Linked DNA regions of Homo sapiens. The protein of the gene in region 1 purifies or fractionates together with the protein of each later gene. This does not show direct contact. Each region holds a gene or a part of one and is shown on either strand. Other genes may lie near its edges.

Evidence for each region.
Region 2: the proteins of PAXX (region 1) and XRCC4 purify together in Homo sapiens (affinity purification with western blotting; 2 studies listed by BioGRID and IntAct, with this or other methods). This does not show direct contact.

The regions. Positions count from the first base shown.
Region 1 is NC_000009.12:136,985,095-136,995,015, forward strand, and holds PAXX (protein PAXX), read left to right. Parts: upstream 1-7,327; 5' UTR 7,328-7,349; coding exon 7,350-7,468; intron 7,469-7,545; coding exon 7,546-7,606; exon of another isoform or gene 7,607-7,610; intron 7,611-7,830; coding exon 7,831-7,880; intron 7,881-7,958; coding exon 7,959-8,149; intron 8,150-8,248; coding exon 8,249-8,317; intron 8,318-8,485; coding exon 8,486-8,570; intron 8,571-8,671; coding exon 8,672-8,711; coding exon of another isoform or gene 8,712-8,772; 3' UTR 8,773-8,882; downstream 8,883-9,921. Other genes in the region: CLIC3 (chloride intracellular channel protein 3), read right to left, coding at 9,587-9,745, 9,836-9,921. UniProt on the Homo sapiens protein: Non-essential DNA repair protein involved in DNA non-homologous end joining (NHEJ); participates in double-strand break (DSB) repair and V(D)J recombination.
Region 2 is NC_000005.10:83,106,888-83,117,483, reverse strand, and holds part of XRCC4 (DNA repair protein XRCC4), read right to left. Parts: intron 6,457-10,596; coding exon 6,281-6,456; intron 1-6,280.

The DNA.
Region 1 (9,921 bases):
GTGGGCCTGAGCCCCAGCCAGGGCGTCCTGCTGCCGAAGTCGGGTGAGCGGTGCCGGCAGCCCTGCTGGGAGGGCCAGGCCCCGGGTCACACCCCTGCTGGAAGGGCCAGGCCCTGGTCACTCCACTGATCTCAGATTCGGGACAGAAGTGCCCGGGGCAGACCCAGCCTGTCTGGGTCGGGGGAGGGCGAGACGTTGCCCAGGCCGGTGTTCCCAGGAGGAGATCGCCTTGGGGCAGGTCGGGGGCCTCCGTCCCAGGGAAGGGGGCGCGGGGTGGCGCCTCAGGCTCGATCTCTCTGCAGACCAGTGTGCGGGCGCGCTCTCCCGGGTGAGTAGACCATGGCCATGCGGAGCCGCGGACCATGGGCCCTCCCAGCTCGGTGGGCTGCACCGCGGGGCCCTCTACCTTCGGGGCAGCTAGGGACGACAGCGGGGGTGATGGGGCACCCGGGCGGATCCGAGCCGCAGCAGCCTGGGGAACCGCGGGGCTGCGCGTCGGGAGGGGGCGGAGGCAGGGGACGCCGCCCACCTGCTCCTTGTTTTGCAGTGAGGGGTCCAGCCCCTGAGTGCCCGCAGGGGTCAGCTGCTCCGTGCGCCCAGCCCTGCCCAAAGAGCCCCCTCCCTCCACACCCTGGCCCCAAGCGCAATAAACACCCTGAATGCCTGTGGCGCTGTGCGTTTCTTGGGGGCAGGGAGGGGTGGCGGGGGGGCGGCCAGGTACATGGGCGCCCTGGGGGAGGGGCCGGGTCACCCCCTGTTGCCCCTCTGGGTAGGCGTTAGCCCAGGAGGGACCGAGCCTCGGCTCCGTGGCAGGGAGGTTCCTCAGGACGGGCCCCAGCCCCAGCTCTGGGACTTTTCTACCTCCGCACGGACCCAGACCCCCAGACTGGGGGCGCCGGGAGGGCGGGACACGGACACCACGCGGCGCGCGCCCCAGGCTTCAGCGGACACCGCCGCGCGACGTGGCCTTCCGGGTCCTCCCAAGCGGCTGCCCCAGTCAGTGTCGGCGGCTTCCATCCCCAGGCGCCCCTCCGGGTCCCCCAGCTCCCCAGCCCCTGACTCCTGGCTCCAGGACCCGCCCCAGAGGCCTGGCTGTTCCGGAGACCAACGAAGCGCTCCCAACTCTGACCCAGGGCCTGTCCACGGAGAGTGGAGGGCGAGGAGGACAGGAGGAGCCGCATAAAACTCTGCCCTGCCTGGAGTCTATGTAGGACAGTGTTGTCTTTTACAGACAAGTCTCGAAGAATTTGAAGGAAAATAGCCTACTAGCTGTAATGTACCTAGTTCAGCAAAATAATAATAAAAATACTGGTTGCAAATCTGTGAATATTTGGATAGTGTTTAATCTGGGTGATGGGTCTACGGGGTGCAGTATGCTCTGATTTCTCCTTCTCAGTTGGTCAGAGTTTTGTTTGTTTGTTTTTTTGAGATGGAGTCTCGCTCTGTCGCCCAAGCTGGAGTGCAGTGGTGCGATCTCGGCTCACTGCAAGCTCCACCTGCCAGGTTCAAGTGATTCTTCTGCCTCAGCCTCCCAAGTAGCTGGGATTACAGGTGATCGCCACCACGCCCTGCTAATTTTTGTATTTTTAGTAGAGACAGGTTTTGCCATGTTGGCCAGGCTGGTCTCAAACTCCTGACCTCAAGCGATCCACCCACCTTGGCCTCCCAAAGTGCTGGGATTACGGGCGTGAGCCACTGGGCCCAGCCCAGAAAATTTGTTATTAAAAAACACCACTCGGGCCGGGCCCAGCACTTTGGGAAGCTGAGGCGGGCGGATCATGAGGTCAGGATATCGAGACCATCCTGGCTGACACGGTGAAACCCCGTCTCTACTAAAAATACAAAAAATCAGCCGGGTGTGGTGGCGGGCGCCTGTAGTCCCAGCTACTCGGGAGGCTGAGGCAGGAGAATGGCGTGAACCTGGGAGACGGAGCTTGCAGTGAGCCAAGATTGTGCCACTGCACTCCAGCCTGGGCCACAGAGCGAGACTCTGCCTCAGAAAAAAAACAAAACAAAACAAAAAAACACCACTCGGCGGAGCACAGTGGCTCTGCATCCCCCCTGCATTCCCAGGAAGATTCCGAGCCGGGAAATGCAGGTTGCCCTCCACAGCCTCAGGGATGCCCTTTCCTTCCTTCCAGGGTGGGGCAGCCTCTGGGGGTGGCTGTGGGTCCAGCTGTGGTCAGCCCCCAATCCCTTGCAGACGCATCGAGTCCCTCACCTCCCACGCTCAGCCCTTTCTCCACCTAGAAGCCCAGGGGATGGATTCACAAGATGTGTCAGATCAGGCCCCCCTGCTCAGCACCCCACAGTGGGTCCCATTGCACTGAGAGTAAAGGCCTAAGTCTTTTTTTTTGGAACGAAGTTTCGCTCTTGTTGCTCAGGCTGGAGTGCAGTGGCGCGATCTTGGCTCACTGCAACCTCTGCCTCCCGGGTTCAAGCGATTCTCCTGCCTCAGCCTCCTGAGTAGCTGGGATTATAGGTGCCCGCCACCACGCCCAGCTAATTTTTGTATATTTAGTAGAGACGGGGTTTCACCATGTTGACCAGGTTGGTCTTGAACTTCTGACCTCAGGTGATCCACCCACCTCGGCCTCCCAAAGTGCTGGGATTACAGCCGTGAACCGCCATGCCCGGCCTCAGGCCTAAGTCTTGATGGTGGCCAACAAGGTCTTCTCTTTTAGGCTTTCCTTTGACCCACCATCCACTCCCCTCCCTCCGTCCTGCTGCCAGCCCCTCACGTGTCTCAGGGCCTTTGCCCAGGTCACCCCTGCCTGGACTGCCCTTCTCCCAGTGCCACTCAGTGCACTCACTCCCGTCTCTGAAGTCTTGCTCAAATACCTCCCTTGGTTGTTGACCTCTGCTACCCCAAAACTTGACTGGCCCCCACTCCCCTAGAGCTCGTTCTCCGGACCTTTTGCTCCTCTTTTTGGCCCAGCTTCCAGGTGCTCTATGCCTTGGGAAAGGTCAGCCCTTTCCCTCCCCTGTTCTGCCTCCATCACCGACTTCAAGTGTGTGCGTGGGGACTTTGTAATCCCTCTCCTTCTGCTTGCAAAGCTCCACTAACCTTATATCTCATACACTGTATTAATGTATCCTACATTAAAGAAAATTGCTCCCATGGCTGGGTGCAGTGGCTCATGCCTGTAATCTCAGAGCTTTGAGAGGCCGAGGCAGGCGGATCACCTGAGGTAGGAGGTCGGGAGTTCGAGACCAGCCTGACCAACATGGAGAAACCCTGTCTCTACTAAAAAATACAAAAATTAGCCAGGTGTGGTGGTGGGCATCTGTAGTCCCAGCTACTCGGGAGGCTGAGGCAGGAGAATCGCTTGAACCTGGAAGGCAGAGGTTGCGGTGAGCCGAGATCGCACCACTGCACTCCAGCCTGGGCGACAGAGCGAAACTCCGTCTCAAAAAAAAAAAAAAAAAAAAAGTATAAAAAAGTATCTCAGAGAAGGACGTGGTGGAAGCCAGTGGAAAAGCTGCTGCCAGTAGATGAAGCTGGCCCGATGTGAGCCACGAAACAGAACATGACACCAGGGTGTGAGCCAAAGTGTAAAATAAACACCTGAGGTCCACACGGACCCAGCCTGAGGCTAGTTAAATGAAGGTTTTGCAGTTTTCTCGTCATGTTTTGGAACTAATCTTTGTTTCTGGTCTTGTGTCAGTTCCTACAGCTGCCACAAATTATCACAAACTTGTAGCTTGAAGCCAGAGTTCAAAATCAGTTTAATAGGGTCGAGGTATCAGCCGGGCTGTGCTCCCTCCGAGGGCTCTAGGGGAGAAACCTTCCTTGCCTCTTCTAGCTTCTTTGTCTTCTTTTTTTGTTGTTGTTGAGACAGAGTCTTGCTCTGATGTCCAGGCCAGAGTACTATGGCGCGATCAGATCACTGAAGCCTTGAACTCCTGGGCTCAAGCAGTCCTCCTGCCTCAGCCTCCTAAGTAGCTGGGACTACAGGCATGCATCGCTATGCCTGGCTAATGTTTTCTTTTTAGAGATGGGTCTTGCTGTCTTGCTCAGGCTGGCCTTGAACTCCTGGCCTCAAGCAGTCCTCCCACTCTGAACTCCCAAAGCACTGGGATTGCAGGCATGAGCCACTGGGCCTGGCCTCTTCTGGTGGGATACCCTACCTTGTTTCCACCTGAGTGACCCTCTCCTGGCAGAGAGAGAGCCGGACACACTCCATTTTAGTTTCTTCACCTGCGGCCCCCTTTCACCTTCCTCCCTGAAGGCATAGCTAGTGTAAACTGACTCAAAGCACGTCCAGGAATGCACCTACTGATAAGACATTGAGGCAAGCTGCACCAGCAGCTCCTGGGGACACGCGTGGTGGATGGCACCCAAAACCCCTGCATTTATCTCTTTGTGATAGTTTAAGCCTCTGCACCTGGAACTGTTTATTTTTTGTAACTGCATTTGTAACCAATTAATTTTTTTAACTTTTTGCCAGTTCTGCTTCCGTAAAAATTGCTTCAGCTAAAATCCCCCCTCCCCTATTTAGACCACGGTATAAAAACAAAACTAGCCCCTTCCTCGGGGCCGAGAGAATTTTGAGCGTTAGCTGCCTCTCAGTCGCGGCTAATAACGGACTCTTTAATTTGTCTCAAAGTGTGGCGTTTCTGTATAACTCGCTTGGTCACAACACTGGCTTCTGATAGCAGCCTGTAATCCTTGGCTTGTGGGCTGCATCGCTCCAGTTCCTCCCTCCATGCCATGCTGCCTTCTTTTCTGTCTCAAAGCTTCCTCTGCCTCACTTTTAAAAGGCCCTTGAGATGGCACTGAGGGCCTCCCTGGGCAATCCAGGATAATCACCCCATCTCAAGGGAATATCTGCAAACACTCCTTTCTTTTCTTTCCTTTTTTTGGGGGGAAGGGGAGACAGGATCTCACTCTGTTGCCCAGGCTGGAATGCAGTGCCCAGCATCTTCCATAGACAATAGCATTCACAGGTCCCAGGGATTAGGGCCTGATATCTGGGGCCTGCTACAGCCAGCATCTCAGAGTTCACATGACAAAGAAGAGGCCCCCCAGTCCTCTCCAAATCTGCCCCACCCCAGTCATCTTGGGGATGAATCTCCCCTTTCCACTCTTCCCAAATGCCAGGGCCATCCTTGATTGTTCTTTGTCTCCTCCTCCCTCCACCTCCAGTCCGAGCCCATGGTCCACCCCTCTCCTCTGCAGCCCCCGTCCTCTCTCCTCACAGCACAGAATACGGACTTCACACACATAAGTCAGACGTGCCACTTCCCATCCACCCCTGCTTAAACCTCCAACAGCCACCACCCCCCATTCATTCATTCACAATGTTTATTCAGTGTCTGTATGTGCCAGCCATTGTGTAAGCGCTGAAGAGACGGATACACTGGCAGGTAAAACAGACAGAAATCCCTGCCCTCATGGACCTCCTGGGGTGATGGACAATAAGCAGGGTAAATAAGTGTATTGGTGGTCACTTACTGCAGAGTGACAGGTTACCCCAAATGCAGCTGCTTAACCAGCAGGCATGCATTATCTCCCAGTGTCAGCCAGGCAGGACTCTGGGCCTTTGACACAAAGTTTCAGGAGGCTGTGGTCAAGCTGCCGGCCGATGATGTGGTCTCATGGGAAGGCTCAGCTGGGGCGTCAGCTTCCCGGTTCCCTTGCTGGCCATGGTCATCCCCTTAGGGCTGCCTCATGTCACACCCAGCAATTCAAGAGCAATTTTGTCCTATTCTAGTTGCCAGAAGCAAGTCATTAATAAAGTCCAGCCCAAGGGGAGGGGAGTGCAGAAAAGTCTAAACCCAGGAGGGTATAACAGGGAGCTAGCTGCCAGAATAAAGCAAGCCAAAGTGTACTTTCTACAGTGAGAAGTGTGAAAAATAGGGAAATGACAGGAGAGAGGGATGTGAGAGCTGGGCAGCATGCTGCAATGTCAGAACAACACCAGGGAAGGTCTCACTAAAGTGACTTTTGAGTAAAGACCTGAAGGAAGCATGTGAGTCTGGGGAAAGGATGTGCCAGGCAGAAACAGCAGCATGTGCAGAGGCCCAGGGGGCAGGAGCCAGGACTGGGAGTGAACTGGGAAGCAGGAGGAGGTGAGGCAGGCTTGCTGTGGGAGCACTCCGATATGGAAGCGTAGCTTACAGACCCACTGGCCCTCCCCACAGCACCATGCTGCCAACCTGGCCTTCTTGCCGAGCCTTGAACAGAACCATTATTTATGTGGCCAGGCCTCCGCCTGGGATCTCCCTGTCCCTGGTGGGAGCCATCCTCTTCCTCCTGCCCTCATAGCACCCGCTGCAGTTTCTCCTGGCGCTTGGCCCTGCCTGAGAGTGTGGTGTCTCTCCTATTGGATCCTAGAAGCTCCAGGGAGTCAGAGACCTTGTCTGTTGATCGATATCCAGGCCTAGGACAACAGGCACGTAGGAGGAGCTGGAGGAATACCATGCGCGGGACAGAGAGCGCAGAAGCCTTCTTCCCTGGAGATCGCTCTGTACTGTGACTTCTTTTTTTGTTTGTTTGAGACAGAGTCTCGCTCTGTTGCCCAGGCTGGAATGCAGTGGCGCGATCTCGGCTCACTGCAACCTCCACCTCCCTGGTTCAAGCAATTCCCCTGCCTCACAGGCGTGCGCCACCACACCTGGCTAATTTTTTTGTATTTTTAGTAGAGACGGGGTTTCACCATGTTGGCCAGACTGGTCTCGAACTCCTGACCTCAGGCAATCTGCCCGCCTCGGCCTCCCAAAGTGCTGGGATTACAGGCGTGAGTCACCTTGCCGGACCAACCGTAACTTCTTACGATTAGAGTTAGGAAGCTTCCGGTTTGTGTGTGAAGACGATGGAAGGGCGGGGCTCCAGGATGTATCCGCAGAGCCACGGAGGGAACCTGGACTCGGCTGGACTTGGAGCCGGGGCGGGGGCGGGAGGGGGCGAGGTTCGAGTGGGGCTGCTCGCGGGCGCGAGGGCCAGAGCCCGGGATCGCGCCGTGGAGCCCACGACCGGCGAGGCCAGCGCTGGGGGCAGGGCCTCTGGATCCCTGACCCAGGACGCCCTGCTCCGGCCCGCCCCGCGCACTAAACTCGGCCTCTAGTCGCCTGAAGCCCGCGCGGGTACCGGGTCCGCGCGGCCCGGCCTGTGCCTTTAGCCCCGCCCCGAATCCCCCCACCCTCATAACCCCGCCCCTAACCCCGCCTCCACACACAGACCCCGCCCCCAACCAGACTCCGCCCCGCGCAAGCTCCCTAAGCCCGCGACTGGCCTGCACCCGGCTCCGGAAGTCGTTCTTCCGCGCAGGAGCCCTGAGCCCGCACAGCCCCGCCCCTCCCGGCGCCCAAGCCCCGCCCCGCCGGGTTCCCGCTCGCCCGGCGCCATGGATCCGCTGTCGCCGCCGCTCTGCACGCTGCCGCCGGGCCCCGAGCCGCCCCGCTTCGTGTGCTACTGCGAAGGGGAGGAAAGCGGGGAGGGGGACCGCGGCGGCTTCAACCTCTAGTGAGTGGGGGTCCGCGGGGAGGTAGGGGTGCAGGGAGCTCCGCGGGCGGCCCCGCCTGACAGGCCTTCTCCCCCAGCGTGACCGACGCCGCGGAGCTTTGGAGCACCTGCTTCACGCCGGACAGCCTGGCGGCCCTCGTGGGTAACTGGGCGGGTCTGGGAGCCGCCACACCCCTCCTTGCAGTGCAGATCGTCTATGGGGCGACAGACATCTGGGATTCCCCAGAAGGCTCTGACACCCTCTGCCCGCCCTGTAGCTGTAGTCCTCCCATTGGCTAGGGCTCTGGGGTCGGGCAGGTTTCGGGTGCCCCCAGTGGGCCTCGGGTTCCAGGCAGCTCGTGACAAGCCCCTGTGCTCTCTAGAAAGCCCGTTTTGGCCTGAGTGCGGCTGAGGACATCACCCCCCGGTTCAGGTGAGACCCAAGCAGGGAGGAAGGACGGGTGGGGAGGAGGAGGGTCTGCCACAGCTCTCCGCACCTCTCCTCTCCCAGGGCAGCCTGTGAGCAGCAAGCTGTGGCTCTGACTCTGCAGGAGGACAGAGCATCCCTGACGCTTTCAGGGGGGCCCTCGGCACTGGCCTTTGACCTCTCCAAGGTACCAGGCCCAGAGGCAGCCCCCAGGCTGCGGGCGCTGACACTGGGCCTGGCAAAACGCGTGTGGAGCCTGGAGCGGCGACTGGCAGGTAGGATTGGGGGTGGGCACCTCATACCTTCACTGGGGTCCCCTGCTCTTGCCCCCACTCCTGGCACTGAGTGGGGTTCCCATGGGCTTTCCTCCCCAGCTGCAGAAGAGACAGCTGTCAGCCCGAGGAAGAGCCCCCGGCCTGCAGGGCCTCAGCTCTTCTTACCAGGTAAGGCATGTCCGCCTGTGACTCAAGTAGGGCTGTGCTCTTTAACCTGGAACTCAGTTTCCCCCCAAACAAGACTCACGCTCCAGAGAGAATGCCTATCTATTCGGAGAAGGTTGTGGTTGGGATGCTGCCAGGTTCAGGAGCTGCCCCTGTCCTGTTTTCCCCCAGACCCAGATCCCCAGAGAGGTGGCCCTGGACCTGGAGTCAGGAGGCGGTGTCCAGGAGAGTCGCTCATCAACCCCGGGTTCAAGAGGTACCCTCCCACAGCCCCCTTCCTGCGCCCAGGGTCCAATCCTGGACCCCACCCCTTTCTCCACACCATAGTGCCATAGTGACACCCCTCTTCCCTCCCAGTAAGAAACCAGCTGGTGGCGTGGACTTCGATGAGACCTGAAGGTGCAGCACAAGCGTGGCCCCGCGGGGAGTCCGCCTATGAGGGGAGAGGCAGTCTTTGAGGCCCCCATCAGAGACCCCCCGCCACCACCTCCACCTGCCTGTCCTGGGCCAGGACTAACACGGCTCCTCAAATTCCTTCCCTGTCAAATAAACAGCTCCCTTGGTTGGAGGCTCTGGTGGGGCTCTGACTCCTGGCACTGGCCTGGGAAGGGATCAGGGAACACCCCTGGGCCTGTGTTCTGGGTGTAGGGCCACAGGATGTGAACAGATGCTGCAGCCTCTCAGCTCCCTGGAGACTTCCTTGCTGGGCCGGAGGGAGGTGAGCACTCTCAGACCGTCCAGCTATTCCAGCCCTGCCAGCCCAGGAGCTGAGAGGGGCCCAGCCAGGCAGGGCCAGGGCTCCCCAAGGCTTAGAACTTTGTTCCCACCCTCCCAGGCCGCACCCAGGTAGGGCACGGAGCCCCGTGGGAGGATGCAGACAGAAGTCCCGTGTAGACCCTGAGACACTGGAAGTGCCCTGCGGGGAGGGGAGCGCCTGCCCCGGGACAGGATTGAGGAATGTGCCAGCCCCCATCCACCTGGGGCACCCCGCCCCACCCCGGCCTGACTGGTTTGGGAGCCCAGTCCGGTCCTGGAGATCCCTGAGGCCACCGGTTGCAGGAGGCCTGGAGTCTGCGCCTTCTTAGCGTGGAGGATGGGACCGGCCCGACCCCCGGCGCTCCTGCCCCTGTGGTTCTGGGCTATCGGGCTGAGCGTCCCACCCTGGGGTTTGGGGATGGGAAGTGATCCCGAGACCTCTGGCCCTTCAGATGTCAGGACACCCTCACTCCCGACAAAGATGCCTTTATTGGGCGACAGACGCGGGGTGGGGCGCTAGCGGGGGTGCACGGCGGGCCGGTAGGCCGCCAGGATCTCGGCGCTGTGCGGACACGTGTATTTGAACTCTTTCTCCTGCATCGCGCTGTCCAGGTAGCGGCGTACGCCGCGCAGCTCCGCGGGGATGGGCGCCTGGCGGAAGTGCGCGCACACCGTCTGCGGGCAGGATCGCGGGGCGCGGTCAGGACCTGCCGTCCCCCAGGCGCGCCGCGGTCACCCTCCCGCCCGCCCACCTTCCGTGCTCACGTCGACGATGTGCAGCTTGGGCAGGAGGCTGCAGTCGGCCAGCGTGAGCCTGTCGCCGTCCAGGAAGCGGCGGCGGGACTCGCGCA
Region 2 (10,596 bases), on another chromosome or scaffold:
TTTGACTCATAAATGAATATTTTTCTAAAGAAACAGAGTGAGATATGAAAGCAAAAAAGGAAGATGAATACATTATTCATTAAGATGCATTGTTAGCATGACAAAGTCTGTATGGCAAAATCAGGATAAATTGTTAAAGGTAGAGGGAAAACAGTGGCCCAAAGCACACAAATGATCTCTTGTGTGAGTGACAGTCCTTGTGCTGAAGAGATGAGGAGTTCCAAATGCTGGCACTATAGTATGCTTTCAACCAGAACAATCTACTGTTAAATGAAGAGCACTAAGGCAGGAAGGGTCACATGGGTTCGCACTCTATGGAGAAAAGAAATTAGTGTGTAGCTGTTCGCCCAACATTTATTCAAATGAGAATGAAGTTAAAATAAAAGGATCTATGTTATCTATAAAGAAAAGCCAATTAAAGCCTAAGGGAAGTTTTGGGAGGATAAGCTCAAAAGCAATCTCATGAAAATTGCTGACCCACTGCTCCCAAAACATGAGTATAAATATTGACAAACAAGCTAAAAATTTTAAATATTTCACTACATTAGAAATTGGTAATTCTGGCTGGGCACAGTGACTCATGCCTATAATCCCAGCACTTTGGGAGGCCGAGGCAGGCAGATCACTTGAGGTCAGGAGTTCGAGACCAGCCTGGCCCATATGGCACAACCCCGTCTCTACTAAAAATACAAAAATCAGCTGGGCATGGTGACATGCACCTGTAATCCCAGCTACTCAGGAGACTGAGGCAGGAGAATCACTTGAACCTGGGAGGCAGAGGTTGCAGTGAGCTGAGATTGCACCATTGCACTCCAGCCTGGGTGACAGAGTGAGGCTCCATCTCAAAAAAAAAAAAAAAAAAAAAAAAAAAAAAAGAGAGAGAGAAACTGGTAATTCTTTCACTCAGACAAAACATAAGACAGGATTTTCAAAATATCAGGTATTTTTGAATACTAAAATAGTGGTTACTTCCTTTTAAGAAAAAAAGAAAGTTTGTTATAAATGTAAATTTCAAACAATTCTTATATAAGTTAGATATTCAAAATGTTCAAATTGCACAGTGAACACACAATTAGATACACAAAATTTCTTGAACTGATGGCAATAAATGCCTAAAACCCTGACTCCCAGAGGTATGCATCTGGGAGCAAGTCTTTGTCACGGAGGAGCAACCTTACATTAAGAAACAACAGAATTCACAACTTTTTTAGTTGAATTTATGTTCATTCTTTTCCTTTCTTCTAAGTTTAGGAGGTCATTTTTGGCAACAATCAGATGTTTGTATCATCAAGAAAAGGATTACAAACTCCTTCTCAATTTTTAGGTCATCCAAGCAAAATTAGCTTTAAAAAAGTATTCTGTCTGCCATGTTTCCCATTGTCTGCAGATTTTTTTTGCCAGCAGATGAATCTACAAGACATTGTCACTCTGAAATCAGTCTGCAGAAGCACATCCTGAATACTGGAAGACTCCCATGACACCTTGGCCAAATGAACTTGTGATCTCTCAGCTGCATCCATCCACTGAAAGTTTTACCTCATCTAAATATCCAAAATATCTCTCAAGCCAAGCCATGAATAAACTCCTCCTTGTCAAGCCGTTCTGAGAATATTCTTTTCTTTCTCATAAACAAATAAATAAATGAATAAATAAGGAGACAGATATTTAGACTGCAATGTAGTGCTTTAAGACATTCTCTGGGGAACCAGCACACTTTTTGCATTGCTGGTAATCTTTCAGGCTGCTTCCATTACTTGTGAACATTTGTTGAAAAGGTAGTACCTGTAGTTCAAGATGCTGGCTCTGATAAAGTTGTTTACTTTCAGGGTGGTAAGCAAAAATCTTTCAGGATTATTATGAGTCTTTGATGTTGATATATGCCAAACCAACTGTAGAAGACATGAATCAAGAGGACTTAAAGCTCTTTCTTCATAGAAAGGGTAAAACCTGATGTACTGCCAGTCATGGCAAGTACTCCATCCAGGCTGATATGGTTTGGCTGTGTCCCCACCCAAATCTCATCTTGTTTTTTTGTTTGTTTGTTTGTTTGTTTTTTGAGACAGAGTTTCACACTTGTTGCCCAGGCTGAAGTGCAATGGTGTGATCTTGGCTTACCGCAACCTCTGCCTTCCGGGTTCAAGCCATTCTCCTGCCTCAGCCTCCCAAGTAGCTGGAATTACAGGTATGCGCCACCATGCACAGCTAATTTTGTATTCTTAGTAGAGACGGGGTTTCTCCATGTTGGTCAGCCTGGTCTGGAACTCCCAACCTCAGGTGATCCGCCCATCTCAGCCTCCCAAAGTGCTGGGAGGCACCCGGCCTAAATCTCATCTTGAATTGTAGATCCCATAATTCCCACATGTTGTAAGACAAACATGGTGGGAGGTAATCGAATCATGGGGGTGGGTCTTTCCTGTGCTGTTCTCATGAAAGTGAATAAGTCTCATGAGATCTAAAGGTTTTATAAAGGGGAGCTCCCCTGCACATGCTCTCTTGCCTGCCACCATGTAAGACGTAACTTTGTTCCTCCTTCTCTTTCTGCCATGATTATGAGGCCTCCCCAGCCATGTGGAACTGTGAATCATTTAAACCTCTTTCCTTTATAAACTACCCAGCCTCGGGTATGTCTTTATTAGCAGTGTAAGAACAGACTAATACAGTAAATTGGTACCGGTAGACTGGAGTGCTGCTATAAAGGTACCCGAAAATGTGAAAGAAACTTCGGAACTGGGTAACAGGCAGAGACTGGAACAGTTTGGAGGGCTCAAAAGAAGACAGGAAAATGTGGGAAAGTTTGGAACTTCCTAGAGACTTGAGGGCTCAGAAGACAGGAAGATGTGAAAAAGTTTGGAATTTCCTAGAGAATTGTTGAATGGCTTGGAACAAAATGCTAATACAGACAACGAAGTCCAGGCTTAGGTGGTCTCAGATGGACATGAGGAACTTGTTGGGAACTAAAGGTCACTCTTGCTATGCAAAGAGACTGGGGGCATTTTGCCCCTTCCCCAGAGATCTGTGGAACTTTCAACTTGAGAGAAATGACTTAGGGTATCTAGCAGAAGAAATTTCTAAGCAGCAAAGCATTCAACAGGAAGCAGACCATAAAAGTTTGGAAAATTTGCAGCCTGACGATGCAATAAAAAAGAAAAGCCCATATTTGGGGGAAAAATTCAAGCCTGCTGCATAAATTTGCATAAGTAATAAGGAGCCAAATGTTAATCACCAAGACAATGGGGGAAATGTCTCCGAGGCATGTCAGAGATGTTCACAGGAGCCCCTCCCATTATAGGCTCCAGAGGCCTAGGCGGTAAAAACAGTTTCCTGGGCCAGGTCCAGGCCCCCATTGCAGCGTGCAGCCTAGGGACTTGGTTCCCTGCATCCCAGTCACTCCAGCAGTCGCTAAAACAGGCAAAGGTACAGATCGGGCCTTGCTTCAGAGGGTACAAGTCCCAAGTCTTGGCAGCTTCCATATGGTGTTGAGCCTGCGAGTGCACAGAAGCCAAGAATTGAGGTTTGGGAACCTCTGCCTAGATTTCAGATGATGTATAGAAATGTCTGCGCTGGGTGCGGTGGCTCACGCCTGTAATCCCAGCACTTTGGGGGGCTGAGGCGGGCGGATCACGAGGTCAGGAGATTGAGACCATCTTGGCTAACATGGTGAAACCCCGTCTCTACTAAAAATACAAAAAATTAGCTGGGCATGGTGGCGGACGCCTATAGTCCCAGCTACCTGGGAGGCTGAGGCAGGAGAATGGCATGAACCCAGGAGGCGGAGCTTGCAGTGAGTGGAGATGGAGATCACGCCATTGCACTCCAACCTGGGTGACACAGCGAGACTCCGTCTCAAAAAAAAAAAAAAAGAAAGAAATGTTTGGATGTCCAGGCAGAAGTTTGCTGCAGGGGCAGGGCCCTCATGAAGAACCTCTGCTAGGGCAGTATAGAAGGGAAATGTGGGGTTGGAGCCCCTATACAGAGTCCCCACTGGGGCACTGCCTAGTGAAGCTATAAGATTAGGGCCACTTTCCTGCAGACCCCAGAATGGTAGATCCACCGACAGCTTGCACTGTGCCCCTGGGAAAGCCACAGACACTCAATGCCAGCCCATGAAAGCAGCCAGGAAGGGAGCTGTACCCTGCAAAGCCACAGGGGTGGAGCTGCTCAAGGTTGTGGGAGTCCGCCTCTTGCATTAGCATCACCTGGATGTGAGATATGGAGTCAAAGGAGATCATTTTGGAACTTTAAGGTTTCATGACTGCCCTATTGGATTTCGAACTTGCATGGCGCCTGTAGCCTCTTTGTTTTGGCCAATTTCTCCCATTTGAAATGGGTATGTTTACCCAATGCCTGTACCCTCATTGTATCTGGGAAGTAACTAACTTGTTTATGATTTTACAAGCTCATAGGTAGAAGGAACTTGCCTTGTCTCAGATGAGACTTTGGACTGTGGACTTGTGAGTTAATGCTGAAATGAGTTAAGACTCTGGGGGACTCTTGGGAAGGAATGATTGGTTTTGAAATGTGAGGACATGAGATTTGGGAGGGGCTGGGCGGAATGATATGGTTTGGCTGTGTCTCCACCCAAATCTCATCTTCAATTGTAGTTCTCATAATTCCCAAGTGTTATGAGAGGGACCCAGCGGGAGGTAACTGAATCCTGAATGAGGGGTCTTTCCTGTGTTGTTCTCATGATAGTGAATAAGTCTCATGAGATCTAATGATTTTATAAAGGGGAGTTCCCCTGCACATGTTCTTTTGCCTGCCACCATGTAAGATGTGACTTTGCTCCTCTTTTGCTTTCCACCATGATTGTGAGGCCTCCCCAGCCATATGGAACTGTGAGTCAATTAAATCTTTTTCCTTTATAAATTACCCAGCCTTGGGTATGTCTTTATTAGCAGTGTGAGAACAGATTAATATACATGCCAACTGTACCAAGCCCCGTCTTTTAGCATGTCAAAAATTTCAAAAGCCTTTCAGCCTTCTAAAATGTACCTCACTAATTTGGAATTTATTATGTATCAATATGTGTGAAACAGATAAAAACTAGAAAATCGCTGCACAAAATAATGCTAGTTGTTACATGCAAATGTTTAGTGAATGGGAAATGGCATTAATCCCAATTTGGCAATGATCTGCTTCAAAACATTAGAAGAGTCTGCACTTCTGTAACATATAATATCATCCGATTGAGCTTGGGCCACAGGAAAGAACACTTACAATAAATAACAAAATTGTAGTAGCTAGTTCCAACCTTCTTACTGAACCTATTTTAAATTACCATTTTAAGAAATTCAGCATATTGAAACTTATATAAATTGGCAGCTAATTAGAAAAAGTATGTTTATTTTAAATATAAATTACTAAGGGTAGTTTCTCTGCATTATTCCCTACACGATAATATAAATTTATAATGACTCCATTTGTTTCTACAAATGTTTATCTAATTAATGAAATCTCTTTAATTATTCCAAATTTAAAAGGTTGATTTAAAAGAATTTCCTAAACTCAGTTGAGCACTAAAACAAATTCTCAATACATTTCTGTTAACTTAATGTAGCAAACATTTCCTTCCCTCTCCTTCAGAAATGATAGATCTCATATATGACTGAAAACCACTGGTTAAAAAAACAAATTCAGTATCTATTAAACTTAGGTAAAATATACAAATAATTAGTGCCAGACTTTAATAAATAAACCACCTGCCTTGATCTGAATTGGTGCAGGAACTGAGCAGAATAAGTAGCAGATACTCTTGTTTGCAAAGCTTAGGCTTCAAGTTATTTCTATTTTAATATTTTTAAATCTGACAATATAAAGTATCCTTAATACTTACTATGCATTTTTCAATTTCAAATATACTCTAGTAAAGTAGAAAATAAGTCATAATTATTCTATATTCAAAGATATATTTTGATTGATTTTATTTCTTAAAATCAATATTTCACAAAACTTTTTTCAATAAGACCTGTCACGATGGCCTAAAACTTCTGATCTCACCTTTTTCAAGATTATTCTTTTGTATAATTAACTCTGTAATACTTTAAAATTTTTCAAGCATTAAAAACTAAACACATTTTCCAATATTTATTTTTCATGATTCATTAATATATTTAATGACTTTAGCTTTGAAGTATTCTTCTAATTTGGAAACCAAGTACTTTTCAAGCTTTTGCTTCTGAGGTGTTCTGGGAATAATATAGTAGTCACTTAAATTTAAATATAATTCCTCAATAAATGCTCTGACATTTTACTATGTAACATTTTGGAAAGTTTTACTTACTGAGACATCTTTCAGGTTTTTCTCAAAGAAGAAATAACAAGACTCTTTAGAAAAATTAAACGTGTATACATCAGCTGGTCCTGCTCCTGACAACAATGCTTTTCTCAGTTCACCAACATATTTCCCTTTTTCCATTGCCATGTCATCAGCTTCTTGGGAAATCTCTGATTCAGAAACTATGGGAAATATTAACAAAAGTTTTAAAATGAAAAGTAAATGACTACACATGAGAAAATATTAGTTTATCTGTTAGTACTAATTTATCACATGTAACAGAAATTCAAACAAGTAAAATCAATCCCTATACTACACATTTTTAAATCAAATTATTCCTTTTTACTGAACTAGCAATTTTTGAGAAATGCATTAATTTAGACTCACATCTCGTAAAATACATTAAACCCTTGACATTCTTTCTCTGTCTTCAGATGAAACGCATTGTAAATTATTACAGAAACTCCCACTTTGTGTAACTGCTCTTAGGTCAAAGCCAGATAATTTCCTACAATGAATAATAAGTTCAGTATTTTATAACATCTTTCTTCCTTGCATCAAAGATTCAATAGCCTATACTGTGTTTCTCACTCATATGGGCAGAGTAAAACAAAAGCAAAAGTGGAGCTCACTATTCTCATATCATGTGCCAACAACAGAAAATATGGATGAAAGGAGATGATAAGGAAATAATAGGAAGGAAACTAAAATGTACGAGCATCTCCTCTGCAACACATACTATACTAGAGACCGCTTCCAATTCTCTTATCTAGGTATTTTTAAAGCTGATGTTTTACTATCATTGAGATTTTTGTTTCAATAATTATATTTTCAATTCTAGATATTATCTTTGTTCCTTTGTCATTATATCCTGTTCTTATCCTACCCTTCTTTTAAATATTTAAATAAACGTATTTTAAGATCTCTTTCATTTCTGTATTTATGTGTGGCTCCTGGGGTATAAATTATGTTTCTTCTATCTGTGGAAAAATTCTTGTTTTACTTGTTTTCCTTTCATGCTTTGTAACATTTGAGTACAGCTCACCTCTAGCCAAAGTGGCAAGTGCTCTGGGAAGAAGTGGTCTTAAATGAAGGTTGCCTTTCTGGGGGTCATTACAAGTTTTATCAGTTTGGGACTAGTTTTGAAAGTTAATTTCTCACCTCGATTTTTACATTTGAGGCAAAGTGTTCCATTTTAAACCTCCCATCCACACATAACACAGGTTTAGGGTTCTGATTTTTCTTGAGACTTTTATTCACTCATAGTCCTTAGGGATTGTTCTGTTTTTATGCTGCATCCTCTGGACAGAGAGTAGTAGTTTTTTTAAAAGATTATTTTATTAACAGCATATATTTTCCAGGTTCCTTTCTTTATGCTGAGAGCTCAACTCCAATTCCCTAAGAGGTCTGAAGCCTCAACATTCTACCTCACTCAAACATTATACTCACTGTCATCTAGAAGTATATCTAGTTCAGATATTCCATGAATCTACAAGTAAGCTTTAATTCTCATCAATTACTTTGGTTTTGAAATACCTCTTCAAACATGGTGTCTGAGGTTTTCCCTTTCTTACACTCAAAAGTGGCAATGGGTCTGCATACTTGTTTGTTTTTAAAATTACAAGATTCAATCTCGTTATTTGTTGGAATGTGTGTGTGGTTGGATGGTTTCCTGTGTTAATTTAGGCTATCACAGTAATGATAAAAGTCTCATATGGTTGTATAATTTCATACTTATGCATTACACTTATCTATTTTAATTCCTTATAAAACTGAAAAACAGATATTATTTTCATTTTGCAAAAGAGAAAACTGAGGCTCACAGAGATCAAGTAATGGTCTAGGGTGATGAAGTAAGTAACTAGTGAAGCTGGGATTAATACTCATATCTCTCTGCATGTTTTATTTTGAGGTGAAGCAGAGACATGAAACATTGGATAAATTATTTCCATCCATAATTTTGAAAAACAACATTAGTATAAAATATTACAGAATATAAGGAAATCATGATTAAAGAATCCCTAAAATGGAACACACATTTTCATACCTTTGGTCTCTATGCTATCAAGTGTCTGGAAGACCCATGACAGTTAATGAAAAAGGGAGTCTTGCAAGGTACCAATATTTTTATATGATCAATTTTTGATAACAAGTTTTGATAATAAAATATGATTCTCATACGTCACACAACCTTTGGAAGGAGGTAAGAATAAAAATAGCTTATATTCATATATTAACAGCTTCTAAAACACTTTCACATTTTCTCTATTGGAAGTGGACACATTTAATATGATCATCACTATCAAACCTATTGATCTTTCAAATGCCCTAGTAGCTCTTCTAAAAAAAAAAAAAGAAGAAGATAAATGCTTCCTATTTAAGGAATAATTTCATATTTTGTGTTTGCATTATGTTAAAAAGTAACTATCTAACTTTAACTCACCAATACCTAGGAAGAACAGTTATTTCACAGAGAAATAGGAAATAAATTTGTAGATGCCATCTTTAATGCGGCCATAGAAAAACTTGAAGAAAACACAAAAGAAAACAGAGAACATCTATTTAAAAAGCATCTAGTTAAAAGTATTCTAAATTTCATTAAAATGAAAAGATACCTGTCTGAAAATATGTAATCATTCATTCATTCCAAAAATGCTAGCCTGTGGAGCTCAAATTCAAGTGCTAATATCTTAGACAACATTTTAGATATCTGTCAGTTATCATCCTAGATATCCTCTTATTTTCCTCTCCTAATAAATACTGTGCTGATTATTACGGAATATTTAATTTTTGAAGGAGAAAAAAACGTATGAAAGGAAATTAATTATGTAAAACAGCTATTTGTTCAAAAATGTACTTGAAAAATTCCTATAAAAGTAAACATGGAAATCTGACTGCCTACATAGGGCTTCAATCCTAAAAAACCAACCTGGTCACCAGTTTTGAATTCTGTGCCAAGAACATCTGGAAAAAGTATAGCTGTAAGCACGCGATGCTCTAAAACTTCAGTGACCAAGAATAAAGGCAATGGAAATAATAAAATTCAGCAAGAATGCAACTGAACCACATAATAAGGCATAAAACATGAGCAGCCCAACATGACCAAAAAACAAGGAACTGGTAGAAGTCAGACTGAGACTCACTTTAACACTGAAAAGCATCACTTTTGCAGTGTTTATAGGTAGATGAAGATGTAAGTGAGGAAAGAAGATTTTTTTCCTTCAGATACCTATATATAACTAGCCAAAAGCCTGCACACATCCTAAGCTTGTACTGGAGCTCAGAAGACATACAGTCTTATCATACCATTAGGATTCTAGTTGGTATTGCATCATAAACCCATTTCACTGCTTGATTTATTAAAATCCTCTTTCCACTGAGTTCTGTCACTATTTCCATATAAGTCAAAAAATATTTACACTCAAGATAATTATAAGTGGATCTAATTAGTGGATAATAGAACAATTAGTAAAGTTTAATTTACTCTTTAATAAACTTCAAACTACTCCAGAGATGGGTGATATAAGTTTCCTACTGCCAATAGGAATTCTTATGAAAGTCAGAGTCATCGATCATTAACCCACTTTGTGACTTACCCCTGTGATATAACCGCCTGTAATACTGATGTGATGATAGACCACATGATAATTAGATAATTGGACCTCAAAAACATTCATTAGATAAAACATTGCTAATGGAAATCAGTGAGTTTAGTGTAGGGGAGATTAAAAGAAAACTTACATCCTTTTAATTTCACTCAAATAAAAAGAGAAAAAAAATTGTCCAAATTGAAGGTTGCAGTAATCAAAATGTTGAACAAAAAAAAACAGGATGAGGTATCGGAAGGAAATCCGTTTCCATGTTTCAATTATTTAATTGTTTCAATGTCCTTAGTGATGTTATTGTCTACATGTAAAGTACCAGATCACATTTATGGAATAAGCCTTAACTAAACATGGGCACAGTGTTATATTATTTGATTTCCTATTTTGTCCCTGATATGTAAACAAGAAAACAGAAATGAATGAAGGCATAAAACACATGAGAGATTTAAACACTATTAGATATTTTTGAAAATAAAATGACCACATAGTGCACTATAAAATTTTCTGTTTTAAAGCTTGTTTGGTACAGGAAACCAAAATGGTAACAATCCACCTGAGAATACATAAGTTTGATATCACATTTTTGTCACATTAAATTCCACTAGCTAAAAAATAAATGGTAGAATATACTGCAGTTATGACAAATGTCAACAATAAGTAAATATAAAACTGGAGTTTTCATTCAAAAACATGCTAACTCTAAAATGAACAATTTAT